Regions from separate parts of the Homo sapiens genome. Here region 2 is linked to region 1. The links come from fine-mapping of genetic effects on gene expression. Tissue or cell type: atrial appendage. Region 1 holds a variant in brackets; the other region holds the start of a gene. All regions are shown on one strand. Distances are between the middles of the regions.

What was found. PIP is the estimated chance that this variant, and not a neighbour inherited with it, causes the effect.
Region 2: CEACAM19 starts here. The variant in region 1 is fine-mapped to the expression of CEACAM19 in atrial appendage (GTEx, PIP 0.99). The same link has a PIP of 0.9 or more in left ventricle.

The regions. Positions count from the first base shown.
Region 1 is chr19:44,587,568-44,595,673 of GRCh38, forward strand. No RefSeq gene overlaps it. Among named protein-coding and RNA genes, the nearest start is that of IGSF23, 22 kb to the right of the region's middle. RefSeq lists enhancers at 1,884-2,383, 6,116-6,941. The variant C/T (reference allele first, on the strand shown) is at 4,948.
Region 2 is chr19:44,668,044-44,676,149 of GRCh38, forward strand. It overlaps CEACAM19 (CEA cell adhesion molecule 19), which reads left to right and starts at 3,439. Exons shown (of 8, transcript NM_001127893.3): 1 at 3,439-3,943; 2 at 4,553-4,921. The coding sequence starts at 3,889.

The sequences.
Region 1 (8,106 bases):
AGAAAGGAAGGAAGGAAGGAAGGAAGGAAGGAGGGAAGGAAGGAGAGAGAGAGAAAGAAAGAAAAGAAAGAGAAAGAAGAAAGAGGAAGAGAGAGAGAGAGAAAGAAAGAAAGGAAGGAAGGAAGGAGGGAAGGAAGGAGAGAGAGAAAGAAAGAAAGAAAAGAAAGAAAGAGAAAGAAGAAAGAGAAAGAAAGAGAGAAAAGGAATAAAAGAATGGCTACTCTATAGGCAGAGCAATGGCATGGGCTGCTCAACTGAGTACACTTACAGTTACTTCTTGATTATATGCCAAACAAAGGGTGGATTATTCATGAATTTTCCTGGAAAGGGGTGGGCAATTCCTGGAACTGAGGGTTCCTCCCCTTTTTAGACCATATAAGGTAAGTGCTAGATGTTGCCATGGCATTTCTAAACTGTCATGGTGCTTGTGGGCATATCTTTTAGCATGCTAATGTATTATAATTAGCACATAAGGAGCAATGAGCATGACCAGAGGTCACTTTTGTCGCCATCTTGGTTTTGGTGGGTTTGGCTGGCTTCTTTACCACATCCTGTTTCATCAGCAAAGTCTTTATGACCTGTATCTTGGTGGCACATTTTTTAAGTGCTGAAAGGAAAACAACTGTCAACCCAGAATTCTGAATCAAGTGAAAGCATTCTTTAGGTTTAGGAGTGAAGGTGAACATTGAGGTTAGCTCGGTTTCACCTTGAATATGTCTTAAATCCCCTATGCATGCAGTGAATGTGGTTTTATACATAAAATGTTGTACAGCAGTAGCTGTATGCATACTTACAGTGTGTACAGAGATGCTCAGTACCCAACAGGACAAATCTGCAAAATACAGCTTCACCATTGAGCCATAGATGGAGCTGCTGCCTCAAATTAGAGCTGTATTTCCACCTGTTTCTATAGTTAAAATTTCATAAATTAAATGTGTGTATGATGCAAGTCTACTGCAATTCCTTTACTAGAGAGAAGTTGCAAGAACCAATGATCCCTGTTTCTTTATATTCATGCCCTCATCTAATTCCTTCCCCCTGAGTGTGGGCTGTACCTAGTGACTCATTTCTAATGAATGAAGTACAGCAGAAAGTGATGGCTGTCACTTCTCAGATTGGGTTACAAAATGGCTGTTGCTTCTATTTTCAACTTCTCTCTCACTCTGTCTTGAATCACTTTCTGAGGGGAAAGCTACCTGCCAGTAGCAAACACCATCTGAGTGAGCTTGGGAGCAGAACAATCACCCCATACCCTCATCCCAAGTTGAGCTTTTGAATGACACTGCAGCCCCCGTCCAGTAGCTTGATCGCATCAGAGGGAAAAGACCTGGCTAAGCTGAGCCCAGATTCTTGACTCAAAGAGACTATGAGATAACAAATGTTTTATTGTCTTAAGCCACTACATTTTGGAGTAATTAGTCATACATCAATAAATAACTAATGCAGGTGGCCTTCTGGGACACAGAGGAGGATGGAGAAGGTTGAATATCAGAGAGCAGATCTTGGGGACAAAAACACAGAGTCCTCATCACAGGTTATCATGCGAGCCCAGAAAACAAGCATCTAACATCTCATCAATAATATGTTCCCACACACCACCAATACTTTTACCAAAAAAAGTACTAATAGCTAATATTTCAGTTTGTATTTTCTAAAATTGACTCCATATGGCTTTCCTTTGGTGGAAAAGGAAAAAGAAAATTTGTCTCTGTCATTAACTTAATGTGATGTGTCAAATTTTATTTTATTTTATTTTATTTATTTTTTGGAGCAGGGTCTCACTCTGTCACCCAGGCTGGAGTGCAGTGGTGCAATCTCAGCTCACTGCAACTTCTGCCTCCTGGGTTCAAGCAATTCTCATGCCTCACCCTCCTGAGTAGCTGAGATTACAGGCACACACCACCATGCCCAGGTCATTTTTTTTGTATTTTCAGTAGAGACAGGGTTTTACCATGTTGGCCAGGCTCGTCTCAAACTCCTGACCTCAAATGATCCACCCACCTCAGCCTCCCAAAGTGCTGGGATTACAGGCATGAGCCACCACGCCTGGCCAATGTGTCAAATTTTAGATGAGGACACAGAGAACAGGACAGAGGACCTGAACTTTAATAATCATTCTCATATCAAATATGGAAACCACGTTGTTACGGTTTAAATGCTTGTCTCCTTCAAAATTCATGTTGAAACTTAATAGGCAATGTGGCAGTATAGAAAGGTGGGACCTTTAGGGGGCGATTGGGTCATGCAGGTTCTGCTCTGATGAATGGATTAATCCATTCATGGGTTAATGGGTTAATGAATTAATAGGTTATTATGAGAGTGGCATTAGTAGCCTATAAGAAGAGGAAGAGAGACCTGAGCTAGCATGGCCCCTTGTCATGTGATGCCCTGCACTCTATAGACTGCAGAGAGTCCACACCAGCAAGAAGGCTCTCACGAGATGTGGCCCCTTAACCTTGGACTTCTCAGCTTCCATGACTGTAAGAAATAAGTTCCTTTTCTTTATAAATTACACAGTTTCAGATATTATGTTATAAGCAACAATTAGAAAATCTTTAAATCCACCTGGGACCTGGAAGCCCCCTCTGCGGCTTCAAGATGTCCTGCCTTTCTGAGCTAAACCAATGTATACCTTACATGTATCAATTTATGTCTTTGCCTATAATTTCTGTCTCCCTAAAATGTATAAAACTAAGCTATAACCCAACCACCTGGGCACGTGTTCTCAAGACTTCCTGAGGCTGTGTCATGGATCATGATCCTTAACCATGGCAAAATAAAATTCTAAATTGATTGAGACCTGTCTTAGATACTTTTTGGTTTGCAGCTGCAACCAAATGTCAGCCAGAGTTGCTGTCTCATCTGAGGCTCAACTCGGGAAGGATCTGCTTGGAAACCAGGGCGTTGGTAAGGGAGTAGACCACCCTTCATATTGTCTTATGTCCAATTTCTCCCTCCAAAGAAAGAAGAAGTAAAAACTAAAAGGCAGAAATGAAATCCACAGGCAGACAGCCCGGCACCACACCCTGGGCCTGGTAGTTAAAGATCGACCCCTGACCTAACCAGTTATGTTATCTACAGATTCCAGACATTGTATGGAAAAGCATTGTGAAAATCCCTGTCCTGTTCTGTTCTGTTCTGATTACCGGTACATGCAGCCCCCAGTCACATACCCCCTGCTTACTCAATCGATCACAACTCTCTCACACGGACCTCCTTGGAGTTGTAAGCCCTTAAAAGGGACAGGAATTGCTCATTAGGGGAGCTCAGTTTTTGGAGACGTGAGTCTTGCCAAAGCTACTGGCTGAATAAAGCCCTTCCTTCTTTAAGTCAGTGTCTGAGGGGTTTTGTCTGTAGCTTGTTCTGCTACATTGGCAGCATTCAATTGCTAACTGGTTGTAGGACTGAGGATCTCCATTTCTTGCTGGATTTTGCCCACATGGGCCTCCCAACATGACCACTTGTTTCCTCAAAGCCAGCAAGGGAGAGAGTCTCCTGGAAAGATGACTCTATGTTACAGAATTGCCAGAGGTGTTCAGACCAGAGCAACTAACACAGGAGACAGAAATTATTTAGGCAGATAGTGAGGGCAAAAGAGCTCTCAGCAGAACTTCCCTTCTAACAAAAAGTAGCCCAAGAAATCATTTTTCCTAACAAAGAGCAGCCTGAAAAATCGGGCTGCAAACATAAATAAGGAAGCTAGAAGCTTGCATGGGGGAGAGCCAGCAGCTGCACCAATAGAAAAGGGCTACCTGGGAGGGGAACATCACATACTCGGACCTGTCAGGAGGTGGGGGGATGGCGGGGAGAGCATTAGGACAAATACCTAATGTATGCGGGGCTTAAAACCTAGATGACGGGTTGATAGGTACAGCAAATCACCATGGCACATGTATACCTATGTAACAAACCTGCATGTTCTGCACTGTCATGCACGTCCATGTGAAGTGACCACCAAACAGGCTTTGTGTGAGCAATAAAGCTTTTTAATCAGCTGGGTGCAGGCAGACTGAATCCAAAAAAGGAGTCAGTAAAGGGAGATAGGGGTGGGGCATGTTTATAGGATTTGGGTACATAGTGGAAAATTATAGTTAAAGGGGATTGTTCTCTTGCGGGCAGGGGTGGGGGTCACAAGGTGCTCGGTGGGGAGCTCCAGAGACTAATTGTCCAGGAGAAGGAATATCACAAGGTAATGTCATCAGTTAAGGCAGGAACCGGCCATTTTCACTTATTTTGTGGTTCTTCAGTTGCCTTAGGCCATCTGGATGTATACATGCAGGCTTGGGCTCAGAGGCCTGATGTGCACATGTATCCCAGAACTTAAAGTAAAATAAAAATAAAAATAGATTCTAAAAAAGAAAGAAAAGGGCTACCTGCGGGGCAGGCATGTCCACCATGAAAGCTCAATCTTCCCTTTTTTGTTAGCAAGTATACAGTAAGAAAGAAATGGATAACATTGTGCAGCTCAGGCTGAAAACCCACCTGCATAATAAGACTGGGGTGGGGGCTGCCAGAAATTCATGCCCTGTGCAAATGGAACACCTGGTCCTAACCAGTTTCTTACACCCTATGTAGAGCAGGTACTGCCTCCCCACCAGCTCATCTATAAAAACCCCTGCATTTCACCATGGACCAGCAACCTATTTTTCTGGGACCCCCTCTCTGTAACAGACAGCTATTCTCTCTCTTTTGCCTATTAAACTTCTGCTGTCAACCTCACTCTTTTCTTTCCCCCCAGGGGAAAGTGTAAACGCAGTCACCCACTACCACAAATTATGCAGTAACCTCACTCTTTGTGTGTCCGTGTCCCAGTTCTCCATGGCCGTGAGACAACAAACCTCAGGTGTCACCTCAGAAATGAGGCCATTTCACAACTTCATCTTGTACAGGAGCTGGGTAAAATAGGGCTGACACTTCCTGGGCTGCATTCCCAAGAGGTTAGGCATT[C/T]ATAGTCACAGGATGAGATAGGAGGCCAGCACGAGATAGGAGGCCAGCACAAGATAGGAGGCAAGCACAGGTCACAAACACCTTGCTGATAAAATGAAATGTGGTAAAGAAGCCAGCCAAAACCGAGATGGTGACAGGACTGACCTCTGGTAGTCCTCACTACTCTAATTATAACACATTATTAGCATGCTAAAAGACACTCCCACCAGCATCATTACAGTTTACAAATGCCATGACAATGTCCACAAGTTATCCTATGTGGTCTAAAAAGGGGAAGAACCCTCAGTTCCAGGAAATCCCTGCCCCTTTCCTGAAATACTCATGAATGACCCACACCTTGCTTAGCATATAATCAAAGAGTAACTGTAAATGTACTCAGCCGAGTAGCCCATGCCACTGCTGTGCCTATGGAGTAGCTACTCTTTATTCCTTTACGTTCTTAAAAAACTTGCTTTCACTTTATTCTATGAAAAAAATAGGCTGGGTGCAGTGGCTCATGCCTGTAATCCCAGGACTTTGGGAGGCTGAAGCAGGCGAATCACTTGAGGTCAGAAGTTTGAGACCAGACTGGCCAACATAGTGAAACCCCATCTCCACTAAAAATACAATAAATTAGCCAGGCGTGGTTGTGCGCGCCTGTTGTCCCAGCTACTTGGGAGGCTGAGGCAGGAGAATTGCTTGAACCCGGGAGGCGGAGGATGCAATGAGCTGAGATCGTGCCACTGCACTCCAGCCTGGGCGATAGAGTGAGACACTGTCACACACAAAAAAATAAAAATAAAAATAAAAATAAATGTATGGACTGCTTTGACGAGTGGAAGAAGTTGGGAGTAATGCCCTCAACTACTCTAGTGAGGTCATAAGACAAAAATAAAATAAATAAAAATATAAAATAATAAAATAGAAATAAATGTAAAATAAAATAAATACAAATATAAAATAAATGTATAATAAAATAAATACAAATATAAAATAAATGTAAAATAAAATAAATACAAATATAAAATAAATGTAAAATAAAATAAAAATGAATAAAGTAAATTAAAATAAAAATAAATTATTTTATTTTATATGTTGAAATAAAAAGGTTTTATATGTTGAAATCCTAATGCCCAAGGTGATGGTATTAGGAGATGAGGCTTGGGTCAGTGATGAGATCATGAGGGAGGAGCTCTCATAATGGGATTGGTGCCCTCTTATAAAAGAGACCCCAGGGAGACCCTCATCCCTTCTGCCATGTAAGATCCATCCAGTGCACCGAGAACTGGGGTGCTTCAAAATGAGCAAGGATCGTGTTGGTTCTCAGAGCCAGATTTGGCTCCAGCCCCTTTAGCATTGGTCCTTTGCCTGCTGAGTTCCCTCAACCAGGCTTGCCTTTCCTTCTGTTCTGCACTCCCCACCCACTCCTGCTGGCTGGAACTCAGCTGAGCCTTCATAGCTGAACAACGAGTGAATGAATGAATGAACAATTGAAGACCCAGCTTCCTGCTTCAAGCAGGAAGTCACCCCCAGAACACTGGGCTTTCCCATCTTCTGGCCCAGATAGCATCAGTCTTATCTCCTTTACTGACCATAAATTTCTGTGGGGAAAAGCAAGAGAGATCAGATTGTTACTGTGTCTGTGTAGAAAGAAGTAGACATAGGAGACTCCATTTTGTTATGTACTAAGAAAAATTCTTCTGCCTTGAGATTCTGTTAATCTATAACTTTACCCCCAACCCTGTGCTCTCTGAAACATGTGCTCTGTCAACTCAGAGTTAAATGGATTAAGGGCGGTGCAAGATGTGCTTTGTTAAACAGATGCTTGAAGGCAGCATGCTCCTTAAGAGTCATCACCACTCCCTAATCTCAAGTACCCAGGGACACAAAAACTGCGGAAGGCCGCAGGGACCTCTGCCTAGGAAAGCCAGGTATTGTCCAAGGTTTCTCCCCATGTGATAGTCTGAAATATGGCCTCGTGGGAAGGGAAAGACCTGACCGTCCCCCAGCCCGACACCCGTAAAGGGTCTGTGCTGAGGAGAATTAGTAAAAGAGGAAGGAATGCCTCTTGCAGTTGAGACAAGAGGAAGGCATCTGTCTCCTGCCTGTCCCTGGGCAATGGAATGTCTCGGTATAAAACCCGATTGTATGCTCCATCTACTGAGATAGGGAAAAACCGCCTTAGGGCTGGAGGTGGGACCTGCGGGCAGCAATACTGCTTTGTAAAGCATTGAGATGTTTATGTGTATGCATATCTAAAAGCACAGCACTTAATCCTTTACATTGTCTATGATGCAAAGACCTTTGTTCACGTGTTTGTCTGCTGACCCTCTCCCCACAATTGTCTTGTGACCCTGACACATCCCCCTCTTCGAGAAACACCCACAGATGATCAATAAATACTAAGGGAACTCAGAGGCTGGCGGGATCCTCCATATGCTGAACGCTGGTTCCCCGGGTCCCCTTATTTCTTTCTCTATACTTTGTCTCTGTGTCTTTTTCTTTCCTAAGTCTCTCGTTCCACCTTACGAGAAACACCCACAGGTGTGGAGGGGCAACCCACCCCTACAATTTCCCAAGCACAAACACGAGGCCTGACACATGTGGACGTCCCCCTCTGCGTCCCCCTCTTATTGAATTTATTTTCTGTGCCAGGGACTTTACACGCCATGTGTCACTGAGTGCTCACAATGACACAGTGAGGTAGAAGTTATCGTCATCCTTCCACAGAGGAAGAAAGAGGATCGTGTGCACAAAGTCACCTGCCCAAGACAGTTGGAAGGACAATGCAGGTGTAAGCCTAGGACATTGATGTGGAGCCCCAGAAGAACATGTATTCTGGCCGGGCACGGTGGCTCATGCCTCTAATCCCAGCGCTTTGGGAGGCTGAGGAGGGTGGATCACCTGAGGTCAGGAGTTCGAGACCAGCCTGGCCAACATGATGAAACCCCGTCTCTACTGAAAATACAAAAAAATTAGCTGGGCATGGTGGTGGGCACCTATAATCCTAGCTAATCAGGAGGCTGAGGCAGGAGAATTGCTTGAACCCGGGAGACAGATGTTGCAGTGAGCCGAGATCTCGCCACTGCACTCCAGCCTGGGCAACAAGAGTGAAATTCCACCTCAAAAAAAATATTCTATAGGCTTATATATAAGCCTATAGAATAGGACAGCTTCACT
Region 2 (8,106 bases), 80 kb after region 1:
GTTTATGTATATATAAATATATAATATATAAATATATTTATATATTATATATTTATATAATATTTTATATAATATGTTATATATTTTTATATAATATATTATATATATTTATATGCTATATTATATAGTATATTATATATAATATATTTTATATATTATATATATATTTATATAATATTTATATATTATATTTATATAATATGTTTATATATTATTATATTTATATAATATGTTTATATATTATTATATTTATATAATATGTTTATATATTATTATATTTATATAATATGTTTATAATATATATAATATATTTATATAATATGTTTATATATTATATATATAATATATTTATATAATATGTTTATATATTATATATATAATATATTTATATATTATTATATATATTTTATAATATATAATATATATAATATAATATATATATTATATATATTATATATATTATATATTAGTTATAATATAAATATATAATATATGTATATAATTATATAATTATATACATATTATATATGTATATAATTATATAATTATATACACATATTATATATGTATATAATTATATAATTATATACACATATTATATATGTATATAATTATATAATTATATACATATATTATATATTATAATATATTATATATTATATTATATATTATAATATGTATATATAAATATAATATATAATATAATATAATATAATATATATAATATAATATATAATTATATATAATATATATTATATATAAAATAATATATATATATTCAGTTTTTTTTTTTGGAGATGGAGTCTTGCTCTGTTGCCCAGGCCGGAGTGCAGTGGCACAATCTTGGCTCACTATAACCTCCACCTCCCAGGTTCAAGTGATTCTCCTGCCTCAGCCTCCCGAGTAGCTGGGATTACAGGCATGCGCCACCACGGCCAGCTAATGTTTGCATTTTTAGTAGAGACAGGGTTTCATCATGTTGCCCGGGCTGGTCTTGAACTCCTGACCTCAAGTGATCTGCCTGCCTCTGCCTCCCAAAGTGCTAGGACTACAGGCATGAGCCACCACGCCTGGCCTATTCAGTATATTTTTTTGAGACATGGTCTCACTCTGTCACCCAGGCTGGAGTGCAGTGTCATGATCAAAGTTCACTGCAGCCTTGACCTCCCAGGTTCAACAATCCTCCTGCCTCAGCCTTCTGAGTAACTGGAACTATAGTTGAAAGCCACCAAGCCTACCTAATTTTTTAAATTTGTTTTGTGTAAAGTTGGGGTCCTACTATGTTGCCCAGCCTGGTCTCCAATTCCTAGGCTCAAGCAATCTTCCCACCTCAGCCTCTCAGAGGGGTAGGATTACAAGTGTGGGTCACCTGTGCCTCCCTAAATTTATATTTAAATAGCCACATATGACTAATAGCTATGATATTAAACAGCATAACACTAGACCCTCCATTATCCAAGCTCTGTTGATCCAACCAACAGAGCACATTTGATCTCTCCTACCTCCCAGCCTCACACACACAGGCCCCACACCCTCCTTCCTGGCTCCACTCACCCAAGATATTGCAACCTCCTCAATACACCTTGATGACTATCTCAGCCTCCACATCCTTGCATTGCTATTTATGCTGCCTGGTGCACCTCATGCTGCCTCACCCCATCATCTGCCTCATTTCTACTCTTACTCCAGGTCTCAGCTCAGATGCCCCCTCCCCCAGGAAGCCCTCCCTAGCCGTCAGGTTGAATGAGGTGTGTCTCCTTGGGCTCTCCCAGACTCCTGGGCTCCTCCATCCCAGCCCTGATCACTCTGGATCATAATTGTGTGAGAGGGGTCTGCCCCCCCAAACCCTACAGGATTGTGTGCCCTACTGTGGACAGAGGGCAGAGCAGAGGTGGTCTCAATCATCACTGTGTCACCAACATCACCCAGCACACACAACTGGGCACTGGGAATGTGTGCTGGAATGAATGGAGGATGCTTTTTAAAAACTAGGCTAAGCCAGGTATGGTGAGTCACATCTGTAATCCCAGTACTTTGGGAGGCTAAGGTGGGAGGATCACTTGAGCCCAGGAGTTCAACACCAGCCTGGGGCAACATAGTGAGATCCCATCTCTACAAAACATATAAAAATTGACCAGGGATGGTAGCACACAACTGTGGTCCCAGCTACTCAGGAGGCTGAGACGGGAGGATTGCTTGAGCCCAGGAGTTGGAGGCTGCAGTGAGCAATGATCATGCAACTATACTCCAGCCTGGGCAACAGAGCGAGACCCTGTCTTAAAAAAAAAAAAAAAGAATAACACACTTGGAATAAACATGATCCAAAAAAGTACAAAACATACACTCTGGGGCTGGGTGCAGTGGCTCATGCCTATACTCCTAGTACTTTGGGAGGCCGAGGCAGGAGGATCATCTGAGGTCAGGAGTTTGAGACCAGCCTGGCCAACATGGCAAAACCCCATCTCTACTAAAAATACAAAAATTAGCCAGGCATGGTGACGCATGCCTGTAATCCCAGCTACTCAGAAGGCTGAGGCAGAAGAATCACTTGAACCTGGGAGGCGGAGGTTGCAGTAAACTGAGATTGTGCCACTGTACTCCAGCCTGGGTGACACAGCATCTAAAAAAGAAACCAATCCAAAAACTACAAAATATTCTTGCAATTATAGGTGACATATTTAAATGGTAAGACAACCAATGTTCATGAATGGAAAGACAGAGCAAGACCCTGTCTCAAGAAAAAAAAAAAAAAAAAAAAAAAAAAAAAACAGGCTGAGCGCGGTGGCTCACACCTGTAATCCCAGCACTTTGGGAGGCCAAGGTGGGCAGATCACCTGAGGTCAGGAGTTCAAGACCAGCCTGACCAACATGGAGAAACCCTGTCTCTACTAAAACTACAAAAGTAGCCGGGCGTGGTGGCGCATGCCTGCATTTCCAGCTACTCCCTGAGGTGGGAGGATCGCTTGAACCCAGGTGGCAGAGGTTGCGGTGAACTGAGATTGCGCCATTGCACTCCAGCCTGGGCAACAAGAGCGAAACTCCATCTCAAAAGAAAAAAAAAGAAAAACACGAGGCTAAGAGCTTTTTTTTTTTTTTGAGACGAAGTCTCGCTCTGTCACCCAGGCTGGAATGCAGTGGCGCGATCTCGGCTCCCTGCAACCCCTGCCTCCCAAGTTCAAGTGATTCTCCTGCCTCAGCCTCTCCAGTTGCTGGGATTACAGGTGCCCACCACCACGCCTGACTAACTTTTGTATTTTTAGTAGAGACAGGGTTTCACCATGTTGGCCAGGCTGGTCTCAAATTCCTCACCTCGTGATCTACCCACCTTGGCCTCCCAAAATGCTGGGATTACAGGCGTGAGCCACCGCACCCAGCCTGCCTCAGAGCCTTCAAGTGAGTCAGCCACAGGTGAAATCCCACCTCTGTCTATTGGCAGACTTGCCTCTTTTCCTGGGCCTCTGTTTCCACATCTGTGCAATGGGAACAGTTATTTATGGTGGCTGCTGAATGAGGCAGTGTGTGTTTGAACAAACCCAGGGGAATTGTTCAAACAGAGGCTGTTATGACTATTGCTACAGTGACTGCTGTTGTAGTCACGCTGAGTGAGAAAAAGAGGTTGAAGAGGGTCAGGGGAGGAGTCCTGGGAAGTTCCCCAGTCACCCTGAAAAACTGGTTCAACCTCTGTCTGTGCTCCCATCCCAGGGAGTATAGGTGGAGCCTCCAGAGCCCATGGACAGGGCATGCTGGGGCTGGGCCAGCCCCAGCGGTGTCTCTAAGGCACCCCTGGGATCCCCACTGAGCTGGCCTACTTCAGACAGCCAGGGCCCACCCCTCTGGCCCCCTTAGTGTCCAGCTCGTGGCCCCTTGGCATTTCCACAAGACGCCAAGATGGAGATTCCCATGGGGACCCAGGGCTGCTTCTCAAAGAGCCTCCTGCTCTCAGGTAAGGAGGAAATAGACCCTAAAGGCCAAGGGGAGAAATGGGGACTCAGCCCAGAGATTGAAGTTTCCTCTTAGAAGTAGGGAAAGATTACCTGAGAGGATGAAATTAGAATAAGATGGGGGAGGGGCAACAGAATCACAGCCTCATTGCCATTTTATCTATGGAATTTTCTATAATGTTAGGACCATGAAGGCAGGAATTTATGTATGTTTGGTTCCCTGCTATATCTCCAGTGTCTAGAAATTGAAGGAAGTTTAGATGTATTACATATAGTTGGTATTATAGCTTATATATTACATATGCCTATAAGTATTGGTTGAATAAATGAATGAATGAATGAATTCAGAGAGTCCATGTGTTTAGAAGCAGGCCACACAGCATCTCAAGGTAGAAAAACCTCTGGATCAACAGGATGGCAAATCTGTGGTAACCATGCCTGTGTTCCCACTCCTGCACCCAGGGCAGACATCACTAATCAATCCCAGCATTGTTTCCAATGAGCAGCACTCAGAGTCCTTGCTCCCCGCTGAAGATCTGTATCTAGAGAGGAGCATGCCATGGTCCCTGGCAACACCCCTGATCTCAGCCCTTCCCTGTAACTTCCCACAGCCTCAATCCTGGTCCTCTGGATGCTCCAAGGCTCCCAGGCAGCTCTCTACATCCAGAAGATTCCAGAGCAGCCTCAAAAGAACCAGGACCTTCTCCTGTCAGTCCAGGGTGTCCCAGACACCTTCCAGGACTTCAACTGGTACCTGGGGGAGGAGACGTACGGAGGCACGAGGCTATTTACCTACATCCCTGGGATACAACGGCCTCAGAGGGATGGCAGTGCCATGGGACAGCGAGACATCGTGGGCTTCCCCAATGGTTCCATGCTGCTGCGCCGCGCCCAGCCTACAGACAGTGGCACCTACCAAGTAGCCATTACCATCAACTCTGAATGGACTATGAAGGCCAAGACTGAGGTCCAGGTAGCTGGTAAGTGTTAGGGTCTGGGGATGAGGTGAGGAAGCTAATGAGCCCTGAGCAGCTACCATGCACCAGGTGCTGTGCAAACACCATTTCATTTGGTCCTCTCATTTATTCACTTGACACATATTGAGCATCTACTGTGTACCAATCCCCAGAGATAGTCTTTAACCCTCACATGCATTAACTAATAAAATATCTATGAAATGCCCGCCTTGTGCCTGACACTGGAGAATGCACCATCTCATTTACCTTTCACATGCACTAACATTAACCAAATTTTTATCGAGCACTTACTGTATGCCTGGTTGTGAGGAATGCATCCCTCAATCTTTATGTTTATAAAGCGAGTATTTACTGATGAATCCACTCGGGGCAAAGTGTGAGGGAAAGGGTGGTGGGCAATAATGACAGCTGGCATTTCTTGGGTGATCGTTAAGAGCCAGGCACCATCTTAAACATTTTCCCTAAAGCATAGTTTCTCAGCTTCAGCACTACTGATGTTTTGTATTGGCCAGTTCTTACTAGTAGAGGGTTTGTGCATTGCAGAGATTTCAGCAGCACCCCGGCCTCTACTCACTAGGTACCAGTAGCAGCTTCCTAGTCATGCCAACCAAAAATGTCTTCAGATATTACCAAATGTCTCCACCCTGGGATAAGAATCACCCCTGGTTGAGAACCATTACTCTATATTTACTCATTTTTACCTTAAAACAACTCCATGAGGCCAGCGCCATTATTGTCTCCATTTTACAGATTGAAAAATGGAGGCACGCAGTGGTTATGACTTGCTGAGTAAAGAATACGAACCAGAATGATGTGACATGGGAAAGGAGGTCATCAGGGAGACCTCACTCAAGAAGTGACCTTAGAGGAGAGACCAGAAGAAGGTGATTGAGGGAGGGAGGTGCTGTGGCCCCTTGCCATTTCCACAGGACACAGATCCCCTTAGAATTTATATGTTGAAATCCTAACCTCCAAGATGATGGTATTAAAAGGTGGGGCTTGGGCCTGGCACGGTGGCTTACACCTGTAATCCCAGCACTTTGGAAGGCTGAAGTGGGTGGATCACCTGAGGTCAGGAGTTCGAGATCACCCTGGCCAACATGGTAAAACCCCGTCTCTGCTAAAAATACAAAAATTAGCTGGGCATGGTGGTAGATGCCTGTAATGCCAGCCACTTGGGAGGCAGGAGAATCACTTGAACCCAGGAGGCAGAGGTTGCAGTGAACCGAGATCATGCCACTGCACTCCAGCCTGGGCAACAGAGCAAGACTCCATCTCAAAAAAAAAAAAAGTGGGGCTTGTGGGAGGTGATTAGATCATGAGGGTACAGCACTTGTAAATAGATTGTATGCCCTTATTTTTTTTTTTTTCAATTTAAAAGCAAGATTGTGGAGACAGGGTCTTACTGATATTGCTCAGGCTGGTCTCAAACTCCTGGCCTCAAGCAATCCTTCCACCTTGGCCTCCCAGTGCTGGGATTACAAGAATAAGCCACCATGCCCAGTCTCAGCTCACTGTAACCTCCACCTCCTGGGCTCAAGCGATCCTCCCACCTCAGCTTCCCATGTAGCTGGGACTGTAGGCGCATGCCATCACACCCAGCTAATTTTTTTTATTTATTGGTAGAGACTGGGTTTCACCATGTTGCCCAGGCTGGTCTCCAACTCCTGAGCTCAGGCAATCCACCCACCTCGGCCTCCCAAAGTGCTGGGATTACAGGCGTGAGCCACCACCCCTGGCCCCTAGTTAAATTTTAAAATGAGTTTTGGACAGTGAATAGAAAAAATTTTACAGAAATGGATGAAATAGGCAAAAGTCAACTCAACATATGCATTAATTTGATTACACAAATCTGCATAAAATGACACTCTAGTCCGGTTGGAGATAACAGTCCTTACTTCACTTGTGGAGCCTGAAGTGACTTCTCCCCACATTTCCGGGGTTCCCAGGTCACAGGTGCCCCCTTTGGAAGCTGCACAGCATGGTCATTAAGGAGTTCAGGTGGCCTGGGTATGATCCCAGCACTGCACTTATTGTGAGCCATCAAGCAAGTCAATTTACTGTTCCATGCCTCAGTTTCCTTATCTGTAAAATGGCATAGAGCTTACTTCTTTGTTGGATCATTCAGAGAACAGCGTGTGTGTGTGTGTGTGTGTGTGTGTGTGTGTGTGTGTGTATTTCAAACTTCATAACAACCCTAAGAACTAGGTATTCATATTATCCTCATTTCACAGACGAACCAAGTCACAGAGAGATTGAGTAATTTGCCCAAGGCCACACCGCCAGTGGGCAGCATTAGGATCCCATAGTCTATGAGCTTAGCTGCCAAGACGGGTTGGGATAGAACAGATGTCCAGCTTGAGAGTAAAGCTGGGAGGTCAGAGGGTAAGAGCCAGGTAGGCGTGGTCTTAATTCTAGCAAGTCCAGTTTAAGAATCCTCCAAGTCCCCTACATCTCCTGCAAAACACAGCCCAGAACCTCATCCTTCTGCTGAAGGGATTCAGGTATCATCAACCGAAGTGAGAAAAAGCAAAGCAGATTGGGTCTGGGCTCGGTGGCCACGTCTGTAATCCCAACACTTTGGGAGACCAAGGCAGTAGAACTACTTGAGTCCAGGAATTTGAGACCAGCCTAAGTAATTTAGTGACACCCCTTCTTTACAAAAAATTTAAAAATTAGCCAGGAGTGGTAGTGTGTGCCTGTAGTCCCAGCTACTTGGGGGACTGAGGTGGGAGGATGGCTTAAGCCGAGGAGTTGGAGGCTGCAGTGAACCGTGATCATGCCACTGCATTCCAGCCTGGGCAACAGAGTGAGACGCTGTTTCAAAAAAAGAAAAAAAAAAATCAGTTTGATGGGGTAGGGTTGGGGAGCATGTCAGCAAGCAGATTTTGGATGTGCTGAGGATCGTATGAAATCCTAGGGAAGCAGCAACATCGAGATATAGGACAGCTAAGGAGTTCCATCTGGGACATGTTGAAATTTTTTTTTTAATAGAGATAGGGTCTCACTATGTTGCCCAGGCTGGTCTTGAACTCCTGGGCTCAAGTGATCCTCCCCCATCGGCCTCCCAAATTGCTGGGATTACAGGTGTGAGCACCACGCCCAGCCCGCTGGGACATGTTGGATTTTATGTGCCACCCAGATGGTTGGATACTCAGATCTGAAAAGCAGGAGAAAGCTCTGGGCTG